Regions from separate parts of the Homo sapiens genome. Here all the other regions are reported to be linked to region 4. The links are microRNA targets in miRTarBase. Many come from high-throughput screens and were not tested one by one. Region 4 holds a microRNA gene; each other region holds the end of a gene's coding sequence.
The links. The annotated mature microRNA hsa-miR-4711-5p reads UGCAUCAGGCCAGAAGACAUGAG and lies in region 4 at 2,493-2,515, shown strand. An mRNA with a match to its seed (bases 2 to 7 or 8) in the 3' UTR can be bound and repressed. Matches are read on the target gene's strand: a 7mer-m8 pairs with bases 2 to 8, a 7mer-A1 pairs with bases 2 to 7 and ends in A, and an 8mer does both.

Region 1: miRTarBase lists INSYN2B as a target of hsa-miR-4711-5p. Seed matches in the 3' UTR shown: 7mer-A1 at 3,774-3,780.
Region 2: the mRNA of RAB23 is a reported target of hsa-miR-4711-5p. Seed matches in the 3' UTR shown: 7mer-A1 at 3,875-3,881.
Region 3: the mRNA of MXD1 is a reported target of hsa-miR-4711-5p. The part of its 3' UTR that is shown has no 7-base or 8-base seed match.

The regions. Positions count from the first base shown.
Region 1 is chr5:169,857,983-169,866,534 of GRCh38, reverse strand. INSYN2B (inhibitory synaptic factor family member 2B) reads left to right here. Exons shown (of 4, transcript NM_001129891.3): 4 at 2,076-5,232. The coding sequence ends at 2,262. All of the region lies in intron 27 of DOCK2 (dedicator of cytokinesis 2), which reads right to left. Among named protein-coding and RNA genes, the nearest start is that of INSYN2B, 120 kb to the left of the region's middle.
Region 2 is chr6:57,184,789-57,193,340 of GRCh38, reverse strand. RAB23 (RAB23, member RAS oncogene family) reads left to right here. Exons shown (of 7, transcript NM_016277.5): 7 at 2,741-6,349. The coding sequence ends at 2,880. It overlaps BAG2 (BAG cochaperone 2), which reads right to left. Exons shown (of 3, transcript NM_004282.4): 3 at 3,508-8,552. Among named protein-coding and RNA genes, the nearest start is that of BAG2, 17 kb to the right of the region's middle.
Region 3 is chr2:69,933,541-69,942,092 of GRCh38, forward strand. MXD1 (MAX dimerization protein 1) reads left to right here. Exons shown (of 6, transcript NM_002357.4): 4 at 1,811-1,925; 5 at 3,695-3,854; 6 at 4,557-8,552. The coding sequence ends at 4,744. It also overlaps a transcript of ASPRV1 not described here. Among named protein-coding and RNA genes, the nearest start is that of MXD1, 23 kb to the left of the region's middle. RefSeq lists an enhancer at 3,769-4,304.
Region 4 is chr1:59,731,784-59,735,783 of GRCh38, reverse strand. MIR4711 (microRNA 4711) reads left to right here and starts at 2,488; the gene lies at 2,488-2,557. The region is part of intron 14 of FGGY (FGGY carbohydrate kinase domain containing); the gene reads right to left.

The DNA of each region.
Region 1 (8,552 bases), not on the chromosome of region 4:
AATAAATGTTTGTCGAGTGACTGACTGGATACTTGGTGCCTACTCTATGCTGCGTGTTGTATATGCACATGGCATTTAAGCTTCACTGAGGTCCTTTGCGTAGGCACTACTCATTTTGCAGATGAGGACACCATAGCCTGGAAGTGGGAAATGACTTCCCCAAGATCTCACAGTGAAACTGTGGGGCTTTGCTTTAAAAACCACAGCCTATGTTTCATCCACAATACAATTCTAATTTAATATAATGATGGCCTATAGGTCATCCAGCCAGGATTATGTCCCCATAGAGAGGGCCAGAGAGAACAGAAAGAGAAGGCATGTAAGTGGAGGAGAAGCAAGCCTGGATGAAAAATGCAGAAACAAAACAATCAGATACCCTTTCCTAGTGCTCCCTAAGAACTAACACCCCATCAGTCTTGCTATAAAACAGGCCCCCTCGCCCCTCTGACTCTTCAGCCCTGCAACAACCCATCAGTCTTGCTATAAAACAGGCCCCCTCGCCCCTCTGACTCTTCAGCCCTGCCTCTTCCATCTCAGAATGCTCAGGGACGAGGCACTCTTTGGGGCTCCATTCGTCATGCATGGCAACGGCAACATGCCTTTGCAGCAGCATGAACTCGGGTCCCCGGCCCTGGGAGGTGACATGGGGAGAGTAAGCAAGGGCAGATGTCCCTTTAATGACAGCTGTTTTCCAGCCCTTGCTGGGTATAAAGGCACTGGCCAGTCATGCCACATCATAAACCAACATGGGGTCTTTGGTCTCCCAGATGCAACATTTCATTTTCCTTCTGGCTAAACAAGGAGAATGCACTGTTTTCATGACCACGTTTCCTCCACTTCCCACACTCCCACGCTGGCTCCTCATCCTTGGGCCTTCTGAGACCCCTGGTATGAAACCAGGTAACAAACACATCAAAAAGCTTAAGAGCTTTCTTATAAGCATCTTGGCACTGAAAACTCCTCTGTAAGTAAATCCTCCTCATGGAGGAAAGACAATTAAGGACAGAGGGAACCCGTGCTCAGCCCACAGGGATGTCTAAGAGGATTCGTTTTTTCTGCCCCGGCTCTCTGGGTTCTGGGGAGGGTGAACCAGAGTGAGGAAGCAGGCTGAGAGTCCCTGAGGTCTGCTGGCCTGACTTCCAGACATGCAGAGGTCACAGACAGCATCAGCACCCACTCCCTACAGGCCAGGCTTCTGTTCAACGCCCACCTCCCCTGACCTCAGGGACCCCTGCTCTGCGACAGGTTCACTTTTACCTCCTCAATGTTTGTGATAATCAGCACGGGACAATGCAGTCCGTATGTTAATGACACCAAAACACACAAGTAAAATAGCCAACAACAACAACAACGAAAAAGAGGTTGGGAATGTCCATCCATCAGTAGAGGAATATTTAAATACACTGTATTGAGGAATACTACAAGGCAGTCTTACATGTAAAGCTCTCCAAGATATATCTTGAAGTTGAGATGCAATTCAAAGAGCAAGACGTAATATATTGGTAGAAATTATGTTAATGATGATGATGATAGCGGTAATAGAAGCTAACACATACGGAGGACTTAGCGCACGCCAGGCACTACTCTGAGCATTTCATTTATATTATCTCAGTTTACACACATTAATTCCAAAGAAAGCCTTTGAGATAGGTGCTCTTATTACCCCCATTTTACAGATAATGAAACTGAGCTGTCAGTTTTCTTGTCTGTTCCTCTGCATTATCTCAATTTTTTAATAATGAGACAGTTTTCATGCATAACACATGCCAAAACCCCATTAATGATTAAGAGAGAGACTGGAGCCAATATTTACAGAACACTTGCCATCAGGTCTCACTGACCCTTAATAACATCCCTGTGAGGAAGGCATTACAGGTGCCAATTCAATCACTGAAGAACTAGAGGTTCAGAGAGGTGGCATCACTTTCCCAAGGTCAAAGAGCCAGTAGGTACCTAAGGATCTAGGATTTGATCCCAAAGCTCATGCTCTTCCATATTAGTTGGGGCTGAGAGATGCTTAATCAGTCTGTGCTGATTCGAATTCACTTTCCTTCCTTCCTCTCTGTGTTTTTCAGTGTAGAGTATGATTTTCGGCAGCAGGAAGGCAGGTTCCATGAAGTTTTGCAGAGTCTGGAGGAAGCAGAGCCAGTTGAGGAGGCATCGCCCCCACCAAAGTCCCCAGCAGAACCCCCAGCCCCGGAAAAGCAGGACTTAAGGCGGAAAACCAAGAAGGTGAAAAAGAAATGCTTCTGGTGGATCTGAGCTGGTTGGGACCATCCCCCAGCCCCCCAACTCCACGCACTTCCCTGAGATGGGAAATCCACTGCACTTAAGGCCTGCCCTGCTTCTTTGCAAAGGCCCTGGGCTGTGAGCCCCTTGGCCTGTGAAACAGAAGAGCCTTGGAGCTGATGTAGCCGCTGCTGGACACCTGACCACGATCCTTACCTGAGTGCGTGCGACTGCTTGCTGAGGGCTTCACGGACACTAGAGTGACCGCTTGCCAAGTTCCCTGTCACACTCAGCCAGAACTCATGCTGAGTTTTAAGACCAGATTCCCACCACGAGCAAAACCCCACACTACACCTTCCAACACCTCCAAGATGCCAAGCACTTCCTTCCCATCCTGGGTTCATAAACCCAAAAGAAAAAAATAGTGTTGTGCAGACCCGGAAGGTAGAGGGAGGTTATAGGTTATAAGCAGGTACCATAGAAAAAAATGAGATAAACTGGCAGTTTTCTAAGATATCAGCATACATAATAAGCACAAGAGAAGTGGGCAGGGCATAAAATGCTTATGCAAGATCACCCTGGTGTGTTGGGTTGTTTTCCTTTTTAATTAGCCCCTTGATCCCAAATTAAGGCTCTGTCATCTCATGGTGCATGCACCTTTCTGCCTGTGGCAGAGTCAGGCCACCCCAGGGTATAAACTTGTTGGTGTGGCTGTGCTGGATAAGTGTAATTCAAAGAGGATTTCAGCAGCTGTAGCTGTTCCAGGGCCCACCCTAAACCATCATGCTTCTTCTCTGCCTAGGGCCTGAGACCACCTGGCAAATGGGTGGAATCTGTTTTTGGTGTGAACTTTAAGACTCCATAGTTAACTTACCTGCAATATTTAAAATCATGAGATCCAGCAACCTGTCCATCAGTTACATCTTATGAGTAACATAGATAAGGCTAAGATAAAACACAACACTGTTTCTCATCCCTTCATCCCAGAAACAGCCGTGTAGATAGGTTCAAACATATATTAATCGACACAGTCTCCCTTCCTGGTGACCAGACAATGGTCACCTGATTGAAAAACTAGCAGGACTATGGATGAGGATATAGTTTTTTCTATTTGAGGTTTAAATATCTTTCCATCCCAAAGTCTGAGTTATTCAAGGTCTGGCTCATTCTGTTGACAAGACCTACATACATGTGGATCCAGTCAAACTTGCATGGCTGAACAAACTACTAAAGTAATATAATTAAGTAATTGCTATATACTCTTGTGGATGAGGGGTAGGATGGAAAGGCTCAGATTCCTTCTGGTTGAATTAAAATCTCTATCAGCATGTGGTTAGATTGACATTGCTAGAAAGGGAGCCTGAAACTAAACATACATTAAACGAAGAAGGTATTTTGTAATTCCCTTGGCTGAAGATCCAGTGTCTAAGCTAGAATCTTTGCAGAGCACAGAATCCTGTGTGTTCGTGGGATGTACCTACCCCACTGCAAATTGAGCCTAATTGAGCAAACCACTCCGATGGTTTCACCTTCCCCTGTCATAGTGATGCAGTGAACAAAGCTATTTCAGTGAGAATGAAAGGGAAATTTGGCAAGGAATATCAGCTTGCACTATTTAAGTCTTGGAATGTCATTCAAGATGTTCTTGTTCTGTTTCTAGTGTAATGTTTAAGCCCACAGAATCAGACCGGAATATATAACGTCATGTTAGAATTAAGATAAATACACTTGTCATACTTAAGAAGCCACATTTCAATAAGATATGCTACCACTGGCTAAAAGCCACAGATTTTTTTTTTCCTGTATCCATACGATCAACTGTCAGTTGGCCCCAGCAATGGAAAAGAACAGAATAGAGGATAATCCAATAAAGTGAAATCATTTGGGACCTCTTATGTAATTTTATCTTGTAGTAGAGCTTCCATCTTAATTTGCTTTGCTTACGCTAATTTCATGTGAATTTATATTCTCGGGCATCATGCTAGAATGTAAATAACCCTGTTCCCAGAATTAAGAGATCCAGGCAACCAAGCAGTCTATACCACTAGCCTTTGGCAAATGGCTTAAATTTCCCGGCCTGTTTGTCCATTCTTGAATACAGATAAGAACATATGCTTTCCTACTTTATAAACTCTTAGCACGTTCCACATTATGTGAGCTGAGTGACTCAGAGCTGAGCTGGATTACTGGCCAAAGTTAGCCTGGGAAGATAAAGAGATGTTTGAGGTACCTCACACAAAATTAATAAGCTGATGTGGTCATAGATATGTTTCCAGTTGAGGCCCTCACATGAACCCTTAACTGAATTAAATAAAACTGGGACTAGAAAATGTTGACATTTTCTGCACTTCCCCAACAAAAAAAAAAGAAAAGAAAAGAAAAGAAAAAAATAAATAAAATGTTGACATTTCTAGAAATACAGCCAAACAAGGCTGTACTGATTCTACACCAAAGCACAACACCGCATTGCTTGGGCCACTGACCTGAAACTGGGAAGGAGTTCTCTTCTGAAAAATTGATATTTAAAATCATTATGAGGAAATAGGATTCCATAAACATTTTCCTGATGAACAAAAATGGTCGTCTCTATGTTTAAAACACCACACACACATATACCAAAACTGCATACTCACTTATTCATGTGAAAATCACTGCTTCTTTGTAAAATATTACGTAACATCTACCATGATATTCTACAGAAATGCTGTACTTGAGGTTATCTGGTTTGCTGGAGAGATATTAACTTAGCAAAAATTACTTTTATAAAATTGAAAGGAAAAAGACCAATACATCAACTTAAATTGCAGGAGTTTATGTAGCTGCTTTCTCTGTAGTTTAAAAAGCAATGCATAAATGCATACTCACTATCCTTGGAACTTAATACCAGCTCATCTATAGAGCACCTTCTTAAAGACGATGTACTGATGTAAGGTTTTGTAAATTTCTAAACTGTTTTAAACGGGATATTATCTTTTGCAATAAACTTACATATTTTTTCTAGGTTTTAAGACTCCATTACTAGCTTGGGTTGATTTCAGTTATAAAATGTATGCTTAAGAAGGACACCTCAATGGTCCTAAGGGCAAGTATGGCTTTCATTATAATTGCTTCTATATATTTCTAAGGGAAATAAATAAAGAGCAGATTCAGAACTTAGTGTCACGATGATCACATGAAGCCCCGCGTGTCCCGTGAGTGAGGGAGGCAGCATGAATAAATGGAGAGCTGCTCCCAGCCTCATTCCATGGATGTACAGGCATGATTTGTATCATTATACTCAGACACCTGAACTCTAATTTATCCAGTACTTTTCTTTATTTCCCCCTTAATTTTTTTCCTTAAAAGGCAAATTTATATCGCCAATGTGAAGAAAAACAATATCATGTTCCAAAAATAGAATATGAAATAAAAATATCTTATTAAGTTCTTGCTAAACCCTGTTGCTATTGAGGCTGCTAAGCCTGAGACCAGCTCTCTGTTAAGATGGGAGATTAGCAAATATTCAACACATACGAAAGGCACATTCACACCAAGCCCATTTTCTACTTGACTAAACAGGATGTTTGAGAGAGAATTGAAAAGAAAACAACTTTCCTGTCATGTGATTCAGTATTCCTTTTCCTGCCTTCTCCACGAACCATCTAAAACCAGCTTGGGTTTACACCTGGAGAGTGAGTCTCCCACTTTGGGAAACATCAATTTAGAGAAACAATAACAAAAACAAACCCTGGACATAGAATCAGAAGTCTTGGGTTTGACAGCAGTCTGCTATCTTATTTTTGCTGCATAAACTTGAGCAAGTTGCTTAGTTTCTGTGAGCCTCTGATTCCTCTGATATACCCCCTGCCTCCCAAGAGTGCCTTGACAATGAACTGAGTGACAGCCAAGAACACAATGTAGGGTACACATTGGGCCAGGTGCTCAACAAGCACATATTCAGTCATTTGTGGATTGAAGTAAATTGGGAGAGAGAAAGGAAGATACCTCCGTGAAGCTGCAGTGGTTTTCAGAAACAGGTTTTTCTCGGGGCAAGGGAAGAACACTTTCTGTGGGCACGATGGCTCACACCTGTAATACCAACACTTTGGGAAGCCAAGGTAGGAGGATTGCTTGAGCTCAGGAGTTTGAGACCAACCTGGGCAAAGTAGTGAGACCCCGTCAAACAATTAAAAAATTAGTCAAGAGTGTGGCTCACACCTCTGGTCCCCACTAATCAGGAGGCTGAGGCAGGAGGATAGCTTAAACCCAAGAGGGCTGGAGTTAGCTGTGACCATGCCACTGCACTCCAACCTAGGTGACGGAGCAATAGTCTGTCTCAAAAAAAAAAAAGAAAAAAAAAAAAAAAAAGAAGGATCCACCAGAAACCACGACAGTTAATGTTAAGTAATAAAGTCGCCCATGATTCAAAAGAGCACATGGGCACATAAAATACAGCACAGCACTCCGGGAATTAAAGATTCTTGTTGTGTGGAATCAAATATCCTAGAGGTAAAAGAGACTTTAAGAGCCAGGTCCCTTCCATTTTAAGCACAAGTCAATTAAGGAAGGCTAAATGATTTGTCCAAGGGCTTATAGCAATCCTGTGGGGAAGTAGGTGTTGGGAGCAATGTGGTTGGTGGGTGGAATGTGTGAGGGGCCAGGGCCATTCCAGGAAGCATAAGGCTAGACTTGAAACCCGTTCTTACCTTCATTAGCTGAGCTGAATCCTCAATATAACCTTCACTTGAAAAGGCTCTCATTTTAAGCTGCTCAAGGCAACTTGCTGTATGCTAAAAATGTATTTCTTTTTATAAATGCCAAGAAACAAAGATGTTTTATGATCACTACGCCCATCAAGCATTGCTTGCAAGAAAAAGTGCGGGGGACAAATCCTAATCCAACACTGTCAGCATTCAGCACAAACCACATTTGACTGGTTTAATGAACATAATCCCATTTTTGAGTACTTTCACCTCAACTTCCTCCCCATCTTCTTTTCACCAATTTACAGCCTAAATTTCGATGGACCATATCATACCACCCCTACTCCTGAGGTTTTGCAAATGTCTAATTTCTCTCTGCCTCCTACAGAACTCTCAGCCCATAAAGAGCAGGGATGCATCCGTTGGCAACACACAGAGTTTGGTTCTCTCATTGCCAGACTAAGCCAAGTTCTCAGGTCAGCGTGCCTCTCCACTGTGGGCATCCTGTTCTAAACCCACTTCATTTCTCAACTGGCCTCTGCAGGAACCTCCCCAACAGGTCTCCCCACATGCAATCTCTTCTTTTATACTTATTTTTTAAATATATTTTGAAACAGGGTCTCACTCTGTCACCCAGGCTGAAGTGCAGTGGCACTATCATAGCTCACTGCAGCCTAAAACTCCTAGGCTCCAGCAATCCTTTCACCTCAGCCTCCCCAGTAACTGGGATTACAGGTGCTTACCACCACAACCCACTAATGTTTTTTTTAAAATAATTATTTTCTGTAAAGACTGAGCCTTGCTATGTTGTCCAAGCTGGTCTCAAACTCCTGGCTCAAGCAATCCTCCTGCCTCAACCTCCCAAAGTGCTGGGATTACAGGTGCACGACACCGTACCCAGCCCCTCTCTCACTTCTCAAATATCTTCTCCACATAGCAGCCAAAGCAATCATTGCAAAATTTGGATGGGAATAACATTACACTCTGACTTAGAACTGTTCAGTGGCTTCCCAATATACTTAGGAAGTAAGACTAGGTATGTTGCTCTGGCCCGAAGCCCTGCACATCCTGCCCTGCCTCTCCTGTAAGCTCCCACCACAGGCCCTTCCGGTGTTTGTCTTCCAGTCTCAGCCAGCCTTCTTGGCTTTCTTGGACCTACCACGCCTTCAGTCCCTGAAGGCTCCTGTTCCTCCTGCCTTCAATACTCCCCACCTACACCACCCTCCCTGCCCAGCAGCTCTGTTGGGGTTTCCCAGGTCATGCCTCCCATGGCTACCACCAACTCAGCCCAGACCATGCCAAATACCCCTCTTAGACATTTGCCTGGCACAAGGGACCTTACCATCGAAGTCCTTGGCGCAGTTGTCCTTGTACATATATCTGCGTCATTCTTTGATCAAGGTATCTATCTAGACTGAAGTCTTCCTAAGGAAGCCATCTCGCTTATTCTTGCTTGCCTTTGTATCTCCATCATGTACCACCATGGGGTTTAAATACTCATTGCAGAAATAAATTATTGAGTACATTAGATTCACTGGGCATACACCAGTTTATCCCTGGTCCTTCAGTCCTCATATTAGGATGGTACCATAGTGAGTACAGTCCTGAATGATATATGGTATAAATCTATACATAAAGAAA
Region 2 (8,552 bases), not on the chromosome of region 4:
TCTTGATACTTGTATAATCTCTTAAGGACTTCATATCTGTATTCTGTCCCCCTTCACTACATATGTAGAAACAAACACATTATTTTCTGGACCTGTTTTAACTTAGATTTTTCCTGGATTCTGGCTTTTTTTTTTTTCTGCCTTTGCCATTTTCATTGCAAAATTTCTTGCCATCAGAGACCTCAAATGCTTTGTGAACACAAGACACTTATAATAAGCCTCTACCTGGTGTGATCTCCTTGGCTCCCCTTTTGTCTTCTTCATATCTACTGATTAAAGCTTTAATAAGACTCATTGTGGAACAAAGTAAATGCAGATTCTCTTCAATCCAACATTTAAAGGTGGTTTTGCCCTTCCTTCTGTGTAGCCTCCTGCCACACCATTACATCTATGTAACCCATTTACTGGTTCTCTCAGAGGTCTTGATCTTTCCTGAGTATGCCCCATGCTTGCTTTCTTCTTCACTTTTGGTCATTTTTTTTCTTCTATTGAGAATGACCTCTTTCCCATCTTCTGTCGAAGAACAATTCATTCCTCAAGGCCTTTCTAGAAAGTTTTCAGTTGTGTATCTGCCTGCCTGAAGACACATCCTCCATACTCTTTTTCTTTCTTTTTTAAAGAAACAGAGTCTCACTGTGTTGTCCAGGCTGGTCTTGAACTCCTGGGCTCAAGTGATCCTCCTGTCTCGGCTTCCCAAAGGGTTGGGATTATAGGTGTGAGCCACTGCCCAGCCTCCATCTTCTAAAAGAATAGACATCTAAGCCCAGGGCACTGCCAAGTGTCCAGTTCTACCTTCTTCATGTAGTTTTTCCTTTCTTATGTATCAGATGCAATCTGTCCTTCCTTTGAAACTTCTGTAAGATTTTGTGTCTCTTTTATGACACTTAACATATAATGTCATATGGCATTACTTGTTTACTGTCTTGTCTTATTACATTGTAAACTTCTTGTGGGCGAGAACTGGTCTTAGTCACCTTTGTATCCCTGACAGTATCTCTGGCCCAGAATTTTGTGTGTCATGGATGCTATATCATAAATTGGAGATTACATTTTGTGAATAGCACAGTTCAAAATGGAAACTATAAAGTTCTTTATCTTTTAGCTACTCATCACTTTTATCTGTGGGCCACTTTTTTACTGGTTTAGTATAAGTAGGAAAAACGTATCTTACTAGTATTAACACAGAATCTCACAAATAGCTGGGTGTGGTTGCTTGTGCCTATAATCCCAGCTATTTGGGAGGTTGAAGCAGGAGGATTGCTTGAGGCCGACAGTTTGAGACCAACTTAGACAACATAGCAATATCCTGTCTCTTAAAAAAAAAAAGAAAAATTAGCTGATGGCATTCCTGTGCCTGTAGTCCCAGTTACTCAGGAGGCTGAGGCAGGACTGCTGGAGCCCAGGAGTTAAAGGCTGCAATGAGCTATGATTGCACCACTGCACTCCAGCCTGGTGACAGAGCAAGACCCTATCTCTTAAAACACACACACACACACAACTCAGAAATACTGTTGTTACTGTTGTTAACTAAAAGGTATTCTTGAGGAAGTGATATGATGTGAAGTTAGTAAGTTATTAAAATTATCGTAGTTGCCAGGTGTGGTGGCTCATGCCTGTAATCCTAGCACACCTCTAATCCCAGGCAGGTGGATTGCCTGAGCTTAGGACTTTGAGACCAGCCTGGGTAACACGGTGAAAGCCCGTCTCTACTAAAATATGAAAAATTAGCCGGGCGTGGCGGCAGGCGGCTGTAGTCCCAGCTACTCGGGAGGCTGAGGCAGGAGAATCAATTGACTCCAAGAGGCGGAAGTTGCGGTGAGCCAAAATCACACAACTGCACTCCAGCCTGGCGACAGAGCGAGACTCCGTCTTCAAAAAATAAATAAATAAAAATTATCGTATTTGCTGATTCCAAACGTCAAAGATAAATTGTTAAGTCAAAAGATGCAGAACATTGTGTAGAATATGCCACAACTTAGGTAGAAAAGAGAATATATATGCATTTTAGCTTATATATGCATAAACTATATCTGGAAGGATAAGTAGGAAAAGTAATAACATGCGTACCTTAGGGGTGGGAAAACTGGCAAGGGGTGAAAATCTGGGTAAAAAAGAGCCCTAATGTGACCTCTTTTACAGCCTTGGAACTTTGTACCATGCGTATTAGCTACTAAAAGTAAAACTAAAACAAGAGCTTTAAAATCATAAATCTGTGTCCATTGATGTATGAAAGGATAAGCAAAATGTGGTATATACATACAATGGAATATTATTCACCCTTAAAAAGGAAGGAAATGCTTCAGTGTTCTACGTTGGATGAACCTTGAAGACATTATGCTAAATGAAATAAGTCAGTCCCAAAAAGACACTATTATTCCATTTATATAAGGTAGAGTAGTTAAAATCATAAGAGACAGAAGATAGAATGGTGGTTGCTAAGGTCTGCAGGGAGGGGGAATGGGGAGTTAGTTACTGTTTAATGGGTATGAGTTTCAGTTTTAAAGATGAAAAGAGTTATGGAGATGGACGGGGGTGATTGTTCCACAACATTACAAATGTATTTAATACCACTGAACCGTATGCCTAAAAATGGTTAAGATGCTAAATTTTGTTGGATTTTACTACAATTTTAGAGAAACTGTAAATACTTGAAAATATTACTGATTTTACTAACAAGCTGGATGCAACAGGTAACTCAGGCGTGTCAGTGGCAATCACTCTTTTCCCTCAATTTATACAGGTGTCTTTAATACATCTGGTGGAAGTCACTCCGGTCAGAATTCAGGTACCCTCAATGGTGGAGATGTCATCAATCTTAGACCCAACAAACAAAGGACCAAGAAAAACAGAAATCCTTTTAGCAGCTGTAGCATACCCTAAGATGTTTTGGGAGGAAAACAATTGAATTACATTGTGCAATGCATTAAGAAACCCATCCAGCTGTCATGGTATGTTACAAGGTTTTCAGCAGACTTTGCTCCTAATGGCTCTCTGAAAGTGACAGACTTAAATATTGCTCTGCAGTGCTTTTCAGAATGTAGAGTGAGACCTCTGGTGGAAAAATTATTGCCCTGTGGACTCCTTTAATTTTTTTTACATTAGACGAAGCTTCTCCTGTTTGTAAAGGAATGCTATAAGAAATTTCAAACACAGGTTTTGCGGAATTTTAAATGCTGGAAAACATAAATGAAATGCCTAAATATATTGTTACAGATTTTAATACTGTGGATCAAGGAAAGATAGCAAGCATTCTTTTCCTGAAATTGGTCATGTAGCTTTTCTGCGAAATAGTATTGAATCTGAATACTTTCACAAAATAATACTGAAAGGTAAACCCTAAATCTTGCCAGACTGCATTAGTATTTTGGCATTGAAACTTGTGCAATATCTGTGTAATGTAGAATGTGGGGTGTGCATGCAGATGTCTGGTACTGGAGTAAGCTGAAGGTATGTGCAGTATTTAAGAAAATGTACATTCTAATTAATTCACTTATAAAACCATTTACATATTGTGTATATGTTTTTATTTTCAAATGATAAACTCTAGACATATATTTTGCAAAATGAGCTTGGGTTTAAAAAGTGCTTTGTGCCAAAAATATCATACCTAATTTTTATAGTGCTTTACTATCAGAATTTATATTGTTTATTATATCTTTTAAAAGCAGTAAGCAGTTTTCATCTGACAGCGTAGATAAAAGAGGAGTATAGGAATTTGAATGCTAGAGCATCTCCCAGGTGAGCCTTATTGCAGATCTTTTTGATATAGTCACCCATAAGCATGGTGAGCTCCTGCTCTCATAAGGTCAGCCAAAGCCCCTTAAGAAGGTACACAGCACATCTGCAGTCATTCAGGAGGTCCTGTGAAGTGTGGTGATGCATCTAACACCTTTTGCTGCTCACTGAGAACCCAGCTTTGAACTTACAAGATTACACTAACCATTTTTAAAGTGCACAAAAATATTATTATTAGTCTTAACTAAAATTACATATTTTATAATGCCCTGCAACTCTAAACCATCCTTTTGTTTACACATTTTTGTATGGTATTTTAAGATTATCAATCACTTCAACATTTCTATAACCTTGTTTGTATAGCACTTTCTCAAGAGCTGTCAGTCCCACATACAGAATCATTTCTTTTACAAAATGATTTAATATGTAATCATGTGTCAGGACATAAATTTTGTCACTTGGGACAGTAGCTTTCCAGCTAAGATAATTGCGTGAACTCTGTTAAAACTGATTATCACTCATCAATGGCTTTATTTTTAACCTATAAATAACCCCTTTCAATATACCTGGTTTTTACAGCATTGCAAAATCTGTAAAAATAACTTTTATTGGAAAATGTCATGAAGTCATTTTTCATTATTTGTACTAAACAATGTTTTATGTACTCCTTTTGTGTTTTATCTTTTGTTTTTCCATCTGTACTCCCCTCATCCTCCTAATGTTGAGAAAATCAAATTTCCTGGGTGTGTCCTTGTTAAGTGATCAAAAGTAAATGTTCTCTTTGCCATTTTAGATGGAAAAATAAAAAAAATTAAAAAGTAAATTTTTGCTTTTCATTATATTGAAATGATCTGGCATTATCTATTTCACAGTAATGTAAAATGCTTATTTTTATGTCACCAGTTGTCACCACTCCCATTGCTGATAGTGACATAGGTTTTGGGGGCAAAATTCAGTTCCTAACAAACAGTGGATACTGCTAATGAGTCATCTTTTCTACTCTCTTCAATTTTCTACTCTCTACTCTCCTCTTTAATTTTTGCACAAAATAATACTTTGCAACAAATAGTCTTTTGTCTTTATTGGCAGAAAAATCACTTGTTATATGTGTTCTAGTTAGTTCTTTTTCATGTTAGCTGTGTGGCTAAAAGCGTGTTACCTTTCTATATTTAAAAAAAGTAATCTCTGAGGATAGTTACAGTTCCTGTAATATAATTTTATGTACCTAGTTTTATCTTTTTTTAAATAAGAACTGAAGAGAGAGCTTTGTTACATATTTGAATTTTTAATTTGCACTGCTGTATTTTAAACCTAACCATAATTAGTCATTTAAAATAATTAAGTAGGCCTGAAAGTCAGCCATGTTAATTTCTCAATTTAATCAATTCTTAAAGCCTTCAAAAATTGACATTTTTTTTCCAAGACCCTTCATTCTCTTAAATAACTTTAATTTTATGAAACCATGTATACTAAAGAAAAACTTTTCCAAGATTCCAGGTGATTGTGCATTTGTGCTCTAATCTACTTTTTTAACATTACGGCTAATCTTTTGCGTAGACATATCGCTGTGGAATAACTGCCATATTTCAGAGTTCCTCAGGTTTCCTTTTCCTTTTCCAGTCTCTGTCTATGAATTAAATAGTATATAGAATGACCCATATAAGGCAATATAGTTAAATAAAACCAGGTTAAATGATTTCCTTTGTATCTGCCCAAAGTTGATAGCACACGTTACTTTTTCAAAATAAAGCTAAAACTACCAAAAAGAGGATGAAAACTTTTTCCTCATTATGGAGTGAAGTTCTAGGTGGTTGCTTTAGAAGTTGGCAGTGCAGTGCTCAGAAGGAACTCTCAATAAATAACATGTACTCCTTGGACCTGTGAGTTTTAGGAAACTGGACCTTTTCTGAAGACCTTAGAATAGGGAGTTGGCCTTAGGACCTAATGTCCCAACTTAGTGTTGGACCCTTTTAATATAAGATATTGTTAATTATTAGCATACTTTTCAAAACCTTTGAAATAGTTACTGCTAACCTGATAAAATGTTCCCATTAATCTATCATTAGTCTGTTTCTCTGAAAACAAAATGCATTGATGAGGTGAAAGCTTGTTCCACATGGCACCTACCTAATGAACAGGACTTACTCAGTTTTTAACTGTTAAGAATGTCACATGTACTATTGTCACTCCTTAGGTTTTCAGCTATAAAACATGTAAGTCTCTCATCATACAGATGAATTCATTTGCTAACAAAATATTTAAAACCCGCAGTAGACTCTGAAATATCCAGTCATCAAACTCCTGGCTAACTGGATGATTTGGCTATAATAATCTTTATTATTATTATTTTCATCTGTCTCTCGAAATATCTACAGTAGGATGTTAGTAAATGGTCTTTTAAAAGCAAAAAATTGGGGATAAAAGGAAAACTGAATTCCTTCTATATTTTTATTACTAATAAATAATGCTTTTGTAAATTTGAATGGAAAACCACTTGTATGTATTGCTATTTGGTTGCAGTTACACTCTGGAGCTTAATTTAAAACACTACTCTAAAAATTTCATGAAGGATGAATTCCAATAATCAGAAAATAAATGCATTTCAAAGCTAAAATTTTGTGTGATATGTATGATTGTATCAACAGTGTGGATCTAAATAGTAAAATATATAATGCAACTTCTTTAAAGATCAAAGCAACCTAAAATTATTTCATATTTCAGATACTCTGCCAATATTTAATACTCTCATTTTATTGAAAGTAGTGCTAACAAGGAATGGCAGGAGGGCTACCCTAAAATTATGTATTATATGCTAGGAATGGTAGAGAATTGAGATACAGCAAAACATACTCTATATCCACTTATAGTCTATATAAAAGACAATAGTTTAAATGAGGGTAAAAATGTGACTCAGGAGATTCATCATCATTTGAAAATAAATTATACTCCCATTCTTATAAATAAAAATACATGTTAAGAACCAACCCATTGGCCAAGCGTGGTGGCTCATGCCTGTAATCCCTGTACTTTGGGAGGCCAAGGCAGGCAGATCACAAGGTCAGGAGTTTGAGACCAGCCTGGCCAATATGGTGAAACCCCATGTCTACTAAAAATACAAAAATTTAGCCGGGCGTGGTGGTGGGCGCCTGTAGTCCCAACTACTAGGGAGGCTGAGGCAGGAGAATCGCTTGAACCCGGGAGGTGGAGGTTGCAGTGAGCTGAGATCACACCACTGCACTCCAGCCTGGGCAACAGAGCAAGACTCCATCTCAGAAAAGAAAAAATGAAACCTCATGAAGTAAATGAAACTATAGAAACTGCCTCCATAGCATATATTCAACACCAAACGTCTACAAAATGTTTGTTCTCTTCCCTTCACAGTCTCTTTTCCCTAACTCATATACTCCATAGTGTTCCTTGCTACAGTGGATATGTCTTCTACTTGTCAGACAGCCTGGGTGACAGAGCAAGACTCCAAAACAAAAAACAAAAAAACAAAAAACCACACTGGAGATTCCCTGCCCTTTAGATGTGGCTCTAGGTACAGAATGCTGGAGACACTGTAAACCAGGGACCCCAAGCAGCTTGGAAATGTGGATCATAGCTCTTCAAGTCTGTGATCAGAAATCAATGACCTCCATTAAAAACTCCATTGCAAAAAAATGGGAAAAATAATGCTAAGAATACCAAGGTCAAGGAGGCAGAGCCAGAATAATTTGTGTAGAAAAAGTCCTGGACTGATGTGGAAGCCATGGGAAGCAGGGAGCAGTAGTATTTCCCAGAGTGGAAGGGATTTACGGATGCTGACAATACTTGAGAACCTGAAGAAAACATGACTATCCATTTCTTAATTTTCAAAAAGCTGGTCAAGAAAAAAATGATGCACACAAAAAATCATCTCACAGTCTGATGACAGCAAATCAGTCTGCTAACAAACCAAGTGGCTCTGCCATAGATAGAATTAATGTTTCCCATGAAATGCAAAGATTTAAATAAGGCAGAGTTGGAGCTGGCAAAGGAAGTAACATGAATGTCTTCAGATTGTAACTGCTTTTTATAAAGAGACTAACTTGGCATTTTTGTAGAGAAAATGAAGTTTGATATTGCTTGCATTGAGAGATATATACATACATAAAGTCAGTTTGGATCTTGATTTGGTTTTTCAGTGTGAAGAATACCTACATTCAAATAAAAATTGATGTGTTCATTTCAAAATAGTATCCAGGGAAGTTGTTGTGGTTTTTGTATATCAATAGGACTAGTTACTTTGAACAAATAAGTGTTCTCTAGTTGCTTCACACTTTATCAGATAAAAGAAGAATCAACACACTGGTCAACCTTTTTAGTAAACAAAATGCAAACTAGGTATTAATGCTCAGTGCTGGAAATATTTCAGTGAAATAGCTATATTTTAATTACTGAAAAAAGTATAAATTGCTGTAACCTTTATACAAAAAAAGTTTAATATGTGTGAGGCCATGAAAACGTCTATATCCTTTGACCCAATATAATTCACTGCTGGGCCTTTATACAGAGAAAAACAAAAATGAAAGAAGGAAAAAGTCCTGTGTACAAAAATATGTTGCAGTAATAGCAACAAGTTGGAAACAACCTAAATGTCCATAAAAGAGGAATGGATAAAGATATAACTACACAAAATAGAGCTCATTAAGTTGACAATTAAGCAGACTTTATATCAGCATCTAACTTTTTTAAAAAAAGGCAAGTTACAATATAGGAATTTTAGAGAATTGATGCATTTGAGAAAAGATGAAGCAGATAGATATATAATTGTTCACAGTGGTAAATTATAGGTG
Region 3 (8,552 bases), not on the chromosome of region 4:
GCTCAGAAATGAATGCTGTACTCCCCAAGCTTGCCAAGCCTTAGAGCACCCTTGGAGAGTTTAGGACAACTTCCTCATGACCTAGAAGAGGCAGGAGGCTCAGAAGGAAGGAAGTCTAATGCCTTGCTTACTAGCCCTGCCTTAGGGGAACATCCTGAAGTCTCCCTGGAGAGTGTGAATTGACTTCTTACATTAATATCATGCATATTCACCTGTCCTATAGCTTTCTGAAGCCATTTCCTTTCTTTGGTCTATATTTTCAACTTTTGCTATTACAGTACAATTCTTAAGAGGAAAAAGGGCAAACCTATAAGGCATTGCATTGTTTCCCAATTCAGCTGGAGGGGAGCCTCCTAGACCCCAGGGAACTCTGCTCCAAGTAGGTTGTGTGTGGGCAATGAATGTTATCTAAAACCTGAAGACTCTGAGCACTGCTGAAGGTGCAAAGATGCAGTAGAGATGGACTCTGTCCTCTAGAAGCTTAAAGTCTAGTTGAATAGATGACATAATCCATTCAGCAAACACTTATTAAGCATGTGTGTGTTTGAGGCACGGTGACAGCACAGCAATGATTAAGCTGCAATCCTGACTTTCTAAGGAGACTGCAATGAATGGTTAAGTAAGAAATATGAAACAAGTCAGGCAGTACAGTGAACTTCCCAGTGAATAATATAAACAGTTAAGTGGTGCTTAGAAAATAGAGGAATCACTGTGAGCTAGGATGGCTTGGGAAGGCTTTAAGGAGGTGGTAAGCTTAAGCAAAACCCCCAAATCTCAGCTGCTTCTTACATTCATAGAATTTTCCAGGTTCTAGAATAAAGCACAAACCATTTCAAGGAAATGTAAATTTCTCAGTTGGAGCAACTCTCGTGCTCTCTCTTCAGTCAGTTGCCGTGGCTGCTGCTTCATCCAGCCCTTCTCCCTCTCCCACTCCGTGCCATTGCATCAGTCTGACATACTCCAAGAACAAAAAGTATAAAAAATGACTCAGTAAAAACCCCCATCACTTCCTTCCTTATCTCTGTCTGACTGTTCCTTGCCTTCTCCCTGCCCAGCCAGTTTCTTATGTGTCATTCCAGAGTTTGTCTACATACAAGAAAACATGAATATAGATTCTTGTTTTCCTCCATCTTTAAGATAGCATGGTATACTCACAGTTTGGAATCTTGCTTTTCTCCACTTAACAATATATCTGGAAAATCTTTCCTAATAGGACATAAAGCACATTCTCATTCTTTTTGATAGCTACATAGTACTACACGGTGTGGATGTAGCATAATTTATTTAACCAGTTCCCTCCTGGGTGGTCATTTGGGTTGTTTCAATCTTTGCTATTACAAATAAAGCTTCAACAAATAACTCCACAGATATATATGCTCCTTGACTTATGATGGGGTTATGTCTCAAGAAGCCCATCATAAATAAAAAACATCCCAAGTCTAATATGCATTTAATACTTCAATAAACTCATTATAAATTTAAAAAATTGTAAGTTGAACCATCATGAGTCAGGGACCATTACTGTATATAGTATTTACACATGTGAATGACTATATAATAGCAGATATTATTCCCTACCCCAGCACTTGTATTATCAATAGACTTAGCTTCGAAAACCTTGGATTTTGCTTCTCATTGGTTTTCACCAGAGTTGTCTGGTTCAAAATATGTTTATTCAGCAAAAGGTCATTGGTAGCATTTGCCATCGCAAGGCCTGGGCAACTTCACACTCTTTGAGAACTCATTCTGCCTGGGGTGCTTCTGGCCCACTGTGAAACTCTCAAATGCTACTGTGGTCTTGTTTTCATAGACGGGCTCATCTTCGCTTGTGCCTGGAGAAGTTGAAGGGGCTGGTGCCACTTGGACCCGAATCAAGTCGACACACTACGTTGAGTTTATTAACAAAAGCCAAATTGCACATAAAGGTAAGTGTATTGTTGGGATGCTGCTTTATCTTTACCTGTTCAGTGAGGGTTTGTCTGTTGTTACATCTCCAGGACAGTCCTCTCCCCTGAACTCCTCCAGTCTAGCTATTGGATGAATCACAGGTACCTCAAATGCAACATATTCAAAACCCAACTGAGTGTTTCTCACTCCCATGCACCAGAGGTTAAATGGTCCATCCAACTCTCCATCCAGTTGTACAAGCCAGAAATTCAGGAGTCCGTGATAGCTCCTGCTCCTTAACCATATATCTAGGCCATCTCCAAGGCCTAAATATTTTGCAACCGGTCTACTTCCATCTTCATCCCCACTGTCTACTGCAATAAAATCCTCAGAGGTCTCCCTATATCCCTCTGGGTCCCTCCCGTCTGCTTTCCATGCTTCCTGAGAACAGTCCTTCCAAGGTGCAAATCAACACGTGACCTTGTTTAAAATTCTTCTGTGGCTCAGGACAAGCTCTGTCACCTGGTCTGCCCCAGATTCTGCCTTGCCTGGTCCTCACTTGCCTCTGCAGCACCATCTTGTTCCCCAATTCCCCTTTCTCCAGCCCTTCTTCCAGTCCCTGGCACTGTCATATTGTCTTACTTTAGGGCCTTTGTCAATGCTCTTCCCTCTGCTTGGTACACTTTCCTCTCTCTTCTTCACCTAGAGGACTTCTACTTATTCTTCAGATCACAGTGCAAGTCTCTCTAGCTCTGATAATCCTTCGCTGACTTTCCCAACTCAGTGACCTCCTTCCTGTGACAGGTGGTCCCATCACTGGGTATCTCTTAGCCCTGTCATAACTGACATTTGACAGTGGTTTGTGTGACCATTGTGTTGTCTCAATCCTTAGACTATACACCCCACGAGGGAGGGGACTGGGTCTTTGTGCTCACCTCACAGCCCCAGCACCTCCTAGGGTATCGGGCACAGAGTTGACACTCTCTTTGCTACCTGAATAGCAAAGGGTAAGGGGAATTGGATTCAAAGTCTTGAGAGCCACAGCCAAAATCCCTGTTTAGCATGTTTGTATAATCATATTATAGTTGGACAAATGTTACTTTAATTATGGTTAGAAGCCTGCATTCATGACAATTCTGGGAGAAAACCTCTATTTAAAGCAAAACAGCTACAATTAAACAATCTTCTTAATTATCTGAAGAATATGAGAAGCTGGGGGCAGATTTATAAAAATGAGTATTCTATGGAAATGTGTTTTCTAAACTCTTCTGTTGGACAAATTAGAATCAGGACATCAAAAGGGACTATTATTTCCTGCTAACAAACAGAAGTTAATTGAGATTTGGCATGACACAAAAAAGTGCTTATGTAATTGGGACATGTACTTGAATAAACATAGTTTTAAATGGAAGCGTGTTTCTTAAGCTCCCATCAAGTGCAGTTTTCTAGTCCGGAGATCAGGTGTTCAGGGGATTGCTGCAAACAAGGGAGATCAGGTTGGGGACTGCTGCCTGCAGTCTTTCTGATACTAAAACTGAGGGCTACCAGGGTGCCAGTATGTGAGAGCTCACCCCCAGAATCCCTGTGACAGGACAAGTACCCCCAGCACTGGCGATGCTGAAGAGTCAGACGAAGCCAGGAGTCACTGGCCAGTCGACTTCCTGTCTCAGGGAGAAGCTTGATGAGTGGCACCGAAAGGCGTCTGAGGAAGTGTGGCGCATTCCACTGCTAGAAGGGAAGATGCGGGGGCCATTGCCCATTTAGAGATCTCCCTGTGGGGCCCAACAACTACCCCTTTGACTTGCAGAAACTTGAAGATTGTGACAGAAAAGCCGTTCACCAAATCGACCAGCTTCAGCGAGAGCAGCGACACCTGAAGAGGCAGCTGGAGAAGCTGGGCATTGAGAGGATCCGGATGGACAGCATCGGCTCCACCGTCTCCTCGGAGCGCTCCGACTCCGACAGGGGTGAGCCTCTCTCACTCTCCTCCCTGTCTCCCTTGTGCTCCCCAACCCCAGAGCAGGGGTTCAGTACTGCGGACAGGAGGCAGAGTGTAAGAAGAACTAAGACACTGGGTATGATGTAGAGAAGTCGAACAGTGTGACCTCCAGTGACAGGTTCCTTCTCCCTGCTAACACTTAGGTGACAACCCCAGAAGAGTTTGATTGGTGTCAGTTTTCAGCCTAGTTTGTTTTGTTTTGTTTTGAGACGGAATCTTGCTCTGTCACCCAGGCTGGAGTGCAGTGGTGTGATCTTGGCTCACTGCAACCTCCGCCTCCCGGGTTCAAGCGATTCCCCTGCCTAAGCCTCCCAAGCAGCTGGGATTACAGGCACACACCACAATGCCTGGCAAATTTTCCTATTTTTGTAGAGATGAGGTTTCACCATATTGGCCAGGCTGGTCTCGAACTCCTGACCTCAAGTAATTCACCCACCTTGGCCTCCCAAAGTGCTGGGATTACAGGCGTGAGCCACCACACCCAGCCAAATTTTTGTATTAGTAGAAACAGGGTTTCACTGTGTTGGCCCAGCTGGTCTCAAACTCCTAACCTCAAGTGATCCACCCGCCTTTGCCTCCCAAAGTGCTGGGATTACAAGCATGAGCCACCACGCCTGAGCTTTCTGCAGAGCGCTTTCATCAATGTCCTTCTCTCTTGTCCTCCCTGCAGAAGAAATCGACGTTGACGTGGAGAGCACGGACTATCTCACAGGTGATCTGGACTGGAGCAGCAGCAGTGTGAGCGACTCTGACGAGCGGGGCAGCATGCAGAGCCTCGGCAGTGATGAGGGCTATTCCAGCACCAGCATCAAGAGAATAAAGCTGCAGGACAGTCACAAGGCGTGTCTTGGTCTCTAAGAGAGTGGGCACTGCGGCTGTCTCCTTGAAGGTTCTCCCTGTTGGTTCTGATTAGGTAACGTATTGGACCTGCCCACAACTCCCTTGCACGTAAACTTCAGTGTCCCACCTTGACCAAAATCAGCTTTGTAACTGTTTTCAAGGAGGTGCTTAGGATTGTGGGTTTCTGATTGCATCCACTAGCTTCTCTTTTTCTCGCCATAAAAATTTGTCTCTGAGAGACTATACATTCCAATCAATTTGAAGCATCCAAGAATTCTTAGACCGAATAAGCAATGTCCACATCTCAGCAATCCCCCTCTTTGCTCTCCTCGTGTCCTCTCCCAGACCTTTCTTCCAGTTTTCTGGCTTACTGTGTTACTTGCCTAGGAGGAATGTCCAAGTGTGTCTTGTACTTAGGAAACTGAAGGAAACAAACTTTTGAAATTGAGATCCTGATCTCAGAACTCCAAAGTAAGCTTTGAAAGCAGCATTTAAGAGCACTTAACCATGGACCTCACCACCAGTGAGGAAGTCAGGAATACCTCTAGAAAACACGCCCTTCACACCGCGCATGCTCATTCCCCCGACGCGCCGCGTGTGGATGGGAGCAGTATTTCTCACTTTAAAATGGACACCTTGATAGTGTGTCTCTGGGGTTGCACAGCTCATCAAAGTTCCAAATTGTTTGTTCTCACAAACAAAACGGTACAATCTATTTTTGTGCGATGTTCTTGGGACCTCGCTGTGTTCTGCTATCTCGAGGCACATTCTCCCCTCCAACTTTGTTAATGCTACTTGTCTCTGGAACATTTTTTTTTCCTACCTCAGAGATAAATGAGATCTCCATTTCCCACTTAACACAGTGATTATCCTTTTTTCCCCCCCCAAAATAGTGACATTTGGTCCAATTATAATCTATTTTCCTATTGAACTTTCAGCAATAACTGAGCTGTGGCACTAGCAGAGCTAGTAGCCATTATCAGTGAAAGAAAAAGTCCACATTTCTACTCTCTGTTGCAGGTGAACAGGAGAGGATGGTACACTGTTACTAGAACTCCTCTCCTTATTGATTATTTTTGGACACACCCAGAAACTTCTTTATGGAGGCTTTTGGGTTGATAGTTTAAAAGGCTGATTTTTCTTTTTGGTTATGATTTCTCCCTTAAGTGGTCTCCGACTTTGTAGCATTTTTATTTAAGCTAAAACAGAGCACATGTATATGTACATAAGACACATTAAATCTATAAATACTATTTATTCATTTTATATAAACTAATGTAATGGAAAACAAATTCTTATGACTTTGTGGTTTTATAGATGTTCTAGAAACTTTGTATGTAGGTATCTACAAAATTAGTTCATTCCCCTGAATATTTTTGCATTCATATTTTTGAGGTCTTGATGTTTTCAGCCTCTGGCGAATCTTTTTCATTGAATTTGAACCATTTGTAAAATCTGTGATGCTGAAGCAGAGTGTGTCACAAAGTGATGAGAACATTACTAAAATCCACGGACGCACTGCGACCTAAGGGCTCAACGGCTGACTCGGCAGCGGGCAGCCACCCCACGCTCCCCTGCGGTCACTCGCACACCACAGCCTGAAGCTCCCCCAGCGCCTGCACCTCGCACACAGCTAAGGTCAAAGTTCAAACGCACTCCACACGGAAGCTCATTCTATACCCGAAGAGCAGTCTCAGAAAGCAAGATTACTTTTGTGTTTTTTAAAAAATGATTCTTTAATGTATTTTTCTAAACATTCTGATTGGAAGTAGTGGATTCCTAAATGATTCCAAAGTCACCTGTAATTCTTCTGTTTTTGTTTTGTTCTGTCTTTTCTTCATTTTGGCTTTGGGTGGGGGGAGGGGCAGGTGACACAAAGGATTTTTTTTTTTTTTTTTTAATTTTTGGAATCTTTTCCAATAACCAGCTAAAGATTTGCACTGAAATACAACTTGTATGCCTTTTGCATTTTTAAAGCCTGCTTCCTGGATTTAAGCAGAGTGATAGTGTTCAAAGAGCCAGTTCAGCCTGTAACATATTTGAAAAAGATATGTCTGCACTTTGAGGTCCCTTTTGAATGCCATTCACTAGACCTCTCAAGCATTTTGTTTCATTGCTACATCCAAGCGCCTCACAAGTCCACAATGCGGGACAGCATCAAAAGCTCAAGACTTTGGAAAAAGCTTGTGGGCTTGCACTGGGGGAGGGAAGGGAACAAAATTTGTGTACTTCTTTGTTTAATTTAGAAATAAGGCATCCAAGAGATGCCATTATTTTCTGTGTTTCAATTGTTGTGCCTTTGAGTTAAACTGCATTTTTGTCTTTTGGTTGAAATCTGAAATGTACTGTCCCAATATAAAACAGTAATTATTTGACCTTTGCACTGTTTGTCTGGTCCTTTTCAGTTTGATTGCATATAAATGTGGAACTTGATAGATCTCTATATTTTTAATGCACTTGTGATAAACTGGCAGCAGGGTTAGACATTACTTTCAAAGCTTGAGGTAGACCGAGTCAGCATGCTAGACAGGCTTCTCTCTCTAACCAAAACTGTAATCTTCAGGACCAGCAAACTCAGCCCAAGGCAGCTAATCCCCCCAACCCCATCCTCCGCGCCCCGTGCGGCTGATCGGCAGCCCTGATTCGCCAATTTGTCCTCTCTCATTCACTGATCCACCAGCCTGACTGCTAAGAGCTATAGTCTTTTTAGTTGTTTTGTCTTTTTAAGCAAGATGAAAACCTTTCTATTAGGGATTTTGGGGTTGGGAGGGGATGGGCAGAGATATAAACCCCAGCCTTTAAGACTTTGACAATTGTACGTAAATACAGATGTGTATAAATATAGGCACATGCATATTTTTATGTGAAAGTTGATTTTAAAAAACTAAAAAAATCTAAACTGCACTCTTATTGATACCATCATAACGCAAGTGGGAAAAATAAGAGTACGCAGTCTAATTTAATTTCATGCAGTGGGAAAATATATATGTGTGCTTCTGTAACATCCTGAAAACATAGCTTTCCATCCCCTGTTGGCTTTGAATGGTGGGCCGAGCACCCAGGTCGTCTGTATTTTGGTTTTCTTTTGCTAAGCAGAGATCTTGAATTCTTCAAGGTGCTGATAGCAACTGCTGGCTCCTTTCTGTAGTCACACACCTAATGCTAGTTTAGTGATTCAAAATGCATCACATTTTTAGGCAGGACCTAGATTTTCCCTGTCAACCTAAGATGAAAATAATTTCAGTGTTGATTCAGAACTGAACATTAAGTAGGCCCTCGTCCTGCAGTTGGCCACTTGAGTGTTTTGTTTTGTTTTTATTTTTTAAGGTGGGCATTTTCCTTTAACCTCTACTTTTTCAAAAGCAACAAAGGGGCCTCAACCTGAGTTTCCTATGGGCCTCTCTTCTGCATCCCCAAAGCGGCCAAGAGCAAATCCTGGGGGATAAGAAAAAAGTGTAAACTAGGTAGGATTGTGATGCTCAAAATAACCATCTAGCAATATCTTGGAGCTTGAGAATAGATTTTGTGGGCTTATTTCTTCTTGCCTCTTCCCCATCCTTTCAAGAGAGAACTTATTTTTGAAAAGTATCTATATATACACACACACACACACACACACATATTATTATTTAGGTTTTTATACCATACTGTATTGGCGAGAATACCACTATCATTGTCCTTTACAGTCTATTTCTTCCCCCAAGTCTTGGTCTTTTTTTATTTTCTATTTTTTCATGAACCACACAGGAGACTTTAACATCCTGGTCTTTTCTGTTTCTTCTTTGTTTCCCCAAGTTTGTCTGTCCCCCTTTGCCTTCCCTGAGTG
Region 4 (4,000 bases):
TTTATTTTTCTATAGTACAGTTGAGACTCAGCTTACTGTGATGGCAGAAACTCTGGAGACAGAGACCTCGTTTTGAAACCTGCCTCTAATCTTACCTGTTTGTGGGTCTGAGCAGCATTCTTAATTTTGCTAAGCTCTGTCTTCCTTCATAAATAGATAAAACAGGAGTCATAGCTGCCTTGTAGAGATGGTGGGTTGAGAAGTAATCACTAATTCTTAGCTCAGTGTTTTGCAAACAGCAGGTGTCACAAATGTTGGTTACCTCTGTGCACAGTGGATTCAATGGTGAAAATGCCACAGGTCTGAGAATGCTCTCATAAGAGTGAACCAACAATACTCAGAGAAGACCACAATATCACCTGGTGTCAAAGCAAGGACTAGAACTTGGGCCTCCTGACTCCCAGGCTGTAAATCTTCCTCATGAGCTAAAGAGGTTGGAGAAAAATGGAAGGTTGGATGTGGTTCTGTGGAGACAAGATGTTAACTAAAGCAGGAAGGAGGCCTAAACCTCTTACCTCAGAGGGCTTGTCTATGGAAAAGGGATTCTCAAGGGGGCCAAGACATGTGTGCAGTCAGTGGGGTGGGGTTGGAGAGGGGGAGAGTGAAGGTTTTTGTGTGCGTATGTGTGTGTGAACGTTCTCGAATCACTGTGAGAAGTCTTCCCATCCCTCTCTCTACCCCTGCCCCACCATCACCTGGTCTTTGTGCCTTGGAGAGTGAAATTCAGAAGAACAAAAATTCTTTTAAGGTTTTTGGATATGACCAGATAGATGAGGCAAGGTTGTGTTTAATAACCTTGGAATCTTTGCTAGTTTATTTGCAGAAACCAAACTTATCTCTGCCAGGTAATTACAAAATAATCTGTCACATTAGAGGCAAGGACAGAGCATAAAAGGATCTTGTCCACAGCCCCTGGGCACCTTGGCCCCCAGGCCTTCTCTGCTCAGAAGCAGGAGGAAGAGCAGTACCACAGAGGTGAGCCCACAACCAGCTCCCGAGGCCTTCCTCTCTCTGTGGGAGGGCAGTCCCTGTCAGAGTCAGAGGGACCAGGGCCATCCCCTCCCCCAGGGGCTGCTTCAGGGCACTGAGAGGGGAGAGGAGGGTCTCGGCATTCCTCAATCACCTCATGTTAGGTTGAATGGTATGTATGTCTGTGTCTATATGCATGTATGCTTCATGTATGTCATAGCTTAGCTGAGATTCAAGGGATGCACAGGTATTAATGGCTGAAGGAGGGGGAAGCATGTGTCTAGCAGAGGAGAGGGCCATACGGAAGGACGAAAAATGACACTTGACTCACGCCTGTAATCCCAGAACTCTGGGAGGCCAAGGTGGGTGGATTGCTTGAGCCAGGAGTTCTAGATCAGTCTGGCCAATGTGGCAAAACCCCGTCTCTACAAAAAAACACAAAAAATTAGCTGGGTGTGGCGGTGCACGCCTGCGGTCCCAGCTACCTGGGAGGTGAGATGGGAGGATCACGTGAGCCCAGGAGGTCAAGGCTGCAGTGAGCTGTTATGGTACCACTGCACTCCAGTCTGGTCACCAGAGCAAGACCCTGTCTCAGAAAAGAACTTATTCATGTAACCATACAACACCTGTTCCCCAAAACCCTACTGAAATAAATAAAAAGAAAAAGAAAAGAAAACTGATACTTGAGGAATGAGAAAGGCTGTGTTGTTGGAGCAGATAAGAGTGAAGGGAAGTGTGGGTGAAACAGAACCAAGAGGCAGGCAGGGCCATACCACGCGGACCCCACAGTCTCCTTTCCAAGGGCCCTGGGAAGCCAGAGCTACTGTCACCCAAAGGCTCTGCTGAGGTCAGCAAGGGCCAGGGGACATCAAGGTGGCTCTCTTATCACCCAGATATGAGAGATGCTCAGGAGGCAGAAAACATGCTTCAGTGACAGACCAGATGAGGGTGTTAGGGAGAGAAAGTTGTTAGAAGTAACTCTTAGATTTCTGGGCTTAGGCATGTGGCCCACTTAGGGGGATGCAGAGTGAGGGTTTGTCCTTACGGCTGTGTGCACAGAGCTCCTGTTTTTAGATCTCACAGGGCTTAATTCAGGGACATGGAGTAACTGAGAAGGAGAACCTCAGCCTTGCCTTGTTCTGAGAACAGCAGCAACAAAGAAAGAAATCAAGAGAAATAATGTTGCAAAAATTCCTCACAGACAAGGCCAAAGCTTACATCAGCCAGTCATGTGGGTTTTAAGCTTGACTATTTAGTAAGAAATGAATTTGTCCTTGTAAGTGTTAGAAGATCTGGCATTTACACCTGAGATGTGAAGGTGCTTGCTTTAAAAAACAAAACAAAACAAAAAAACAAAACAAAACAAAACAAAACAACAGCATAAGTTCTGAATATCCAGTCAGGAAGTTTAAATGCAGCACTGGACAATCAATACAGAGCCTGAGGCTCAGCCCTTCCCACAGAGACATCACCCAGTTTCCCGAGGGTAGTGAGGAGGAGATGGGGCAGGGGACACAAAAATGTGCATCAGGCCAGAAGACATGAGCCCTTTGGAAAGGTCTCGTGTCTTCTGGCTTGATGCACATTTGCTAGGCTTTATGCACAGTCACCATGGCCATCTGGAAACACAGAAACTTTTATTTGGGGGTGCACAGGCCCGGGGACTCCATGAGGAGAGTGTGTAGGACGTGGACAGGGAATTCCAGGGGAGCTCAGTAGGTGTTTAAGGCTGGAAGGGAGATGGAGAGGCCTGTAAGTAGTAGTAGCGAGTAGGGAAACCTGGATTAAACTCAGGCAATCTGGCTCCAGGAGAGAAAGTCCTTTGAAGCAGAGCGAATGAACAGAAGCCAGCAGGACTGAGCAGTAACAATTACGGGGAACAGGGGGAAGGTGCATCCAGGTACTCGGGGGCCATGTGATGGGTTTTGGAATTCTGTCTAAATTCCATGGTGGAAGCTCGTCGCGGGGATTTCAGGGTGCAAGAATTGCATGTTCCTGTGACGTCTCTGGTTCCAGCAGGAAAGCAGCCGGCAGCATGAGACCAGTTAGGAGATACCGCAGTGGTCTAGGTGGGGGCGACAGTGGTCTGCATAAAGTAATCAACTAACCAACTAGCTAAGCTCCTGAATACCTTCCTTCCCTTCCCCTTTCTTGCCCCCCTTTCCTCTATCTGCTTTGGTATCTCTGACCCCCCTTTTCTCTCAGCAGAAGGTAGAGGACAGAGTGATAAGAACTCCACCCTGCTCAGTTTGCCACAACATAGACAGACTTTGCCATTCCTCATCTTCATCTCTGAGGTGCCCTCCCTGCACTTCCCCATTCAGGATCATCCTTTTCTGTGCCTGCATGCTGACAGGGAGCAGCTGCTTGTATCTAGAACAACTCCCAGCTGTTCTTCCAACTTTTCTTAAGTGTTTCTTAGTGTCAATGCCTCTAATTAGTTAAAATAGGAAGGGGGGTGGTAAACAGAGGAGCACAAGAGAGGCCTAATTTTAGCTGTAGCCAAAAGGACTTTCCCCTAAATACACTGTGATCTCAAAATACTTAGCTAAGCCCATATGTACATGGCGGGGAGAGAATTTAAAGAGCTACAGAAGTAAAATTCTCTGGTCAAATGGGACAGCTCTGCCTCTTTGTACAACTGGATTAAAGAGAAAAGGAATGAAAATAAACTGAACCCTCACTCTGTGCCAGGAACTGGACCAGATGCTTTGTGTGCGGCAACTCAGCAATTCATTTAATCCTCACAGCAACTGGATGATGACGGGACTGGTATTACCTCCATTTTACAGATGAGGAAACTGAGGCTCGGTGAGGCTGATGCTACTCTGTGCAAGATGACACAGCTAATGAGAGAGCAGGATTTAAATCTGGGTCTCTCTGGCTTAACTGTATCTAGCAAGAGGAAGATGGGGCCTCAAACCTAGGATAAACAGGGCATTGGGAAGAGAGCTTAAACAGGGATTCGGAGCAGGGGATCAGAGCCAGATTCCAGGGGATTCTGACTCTTAGAACACTCAGAGGCATCATC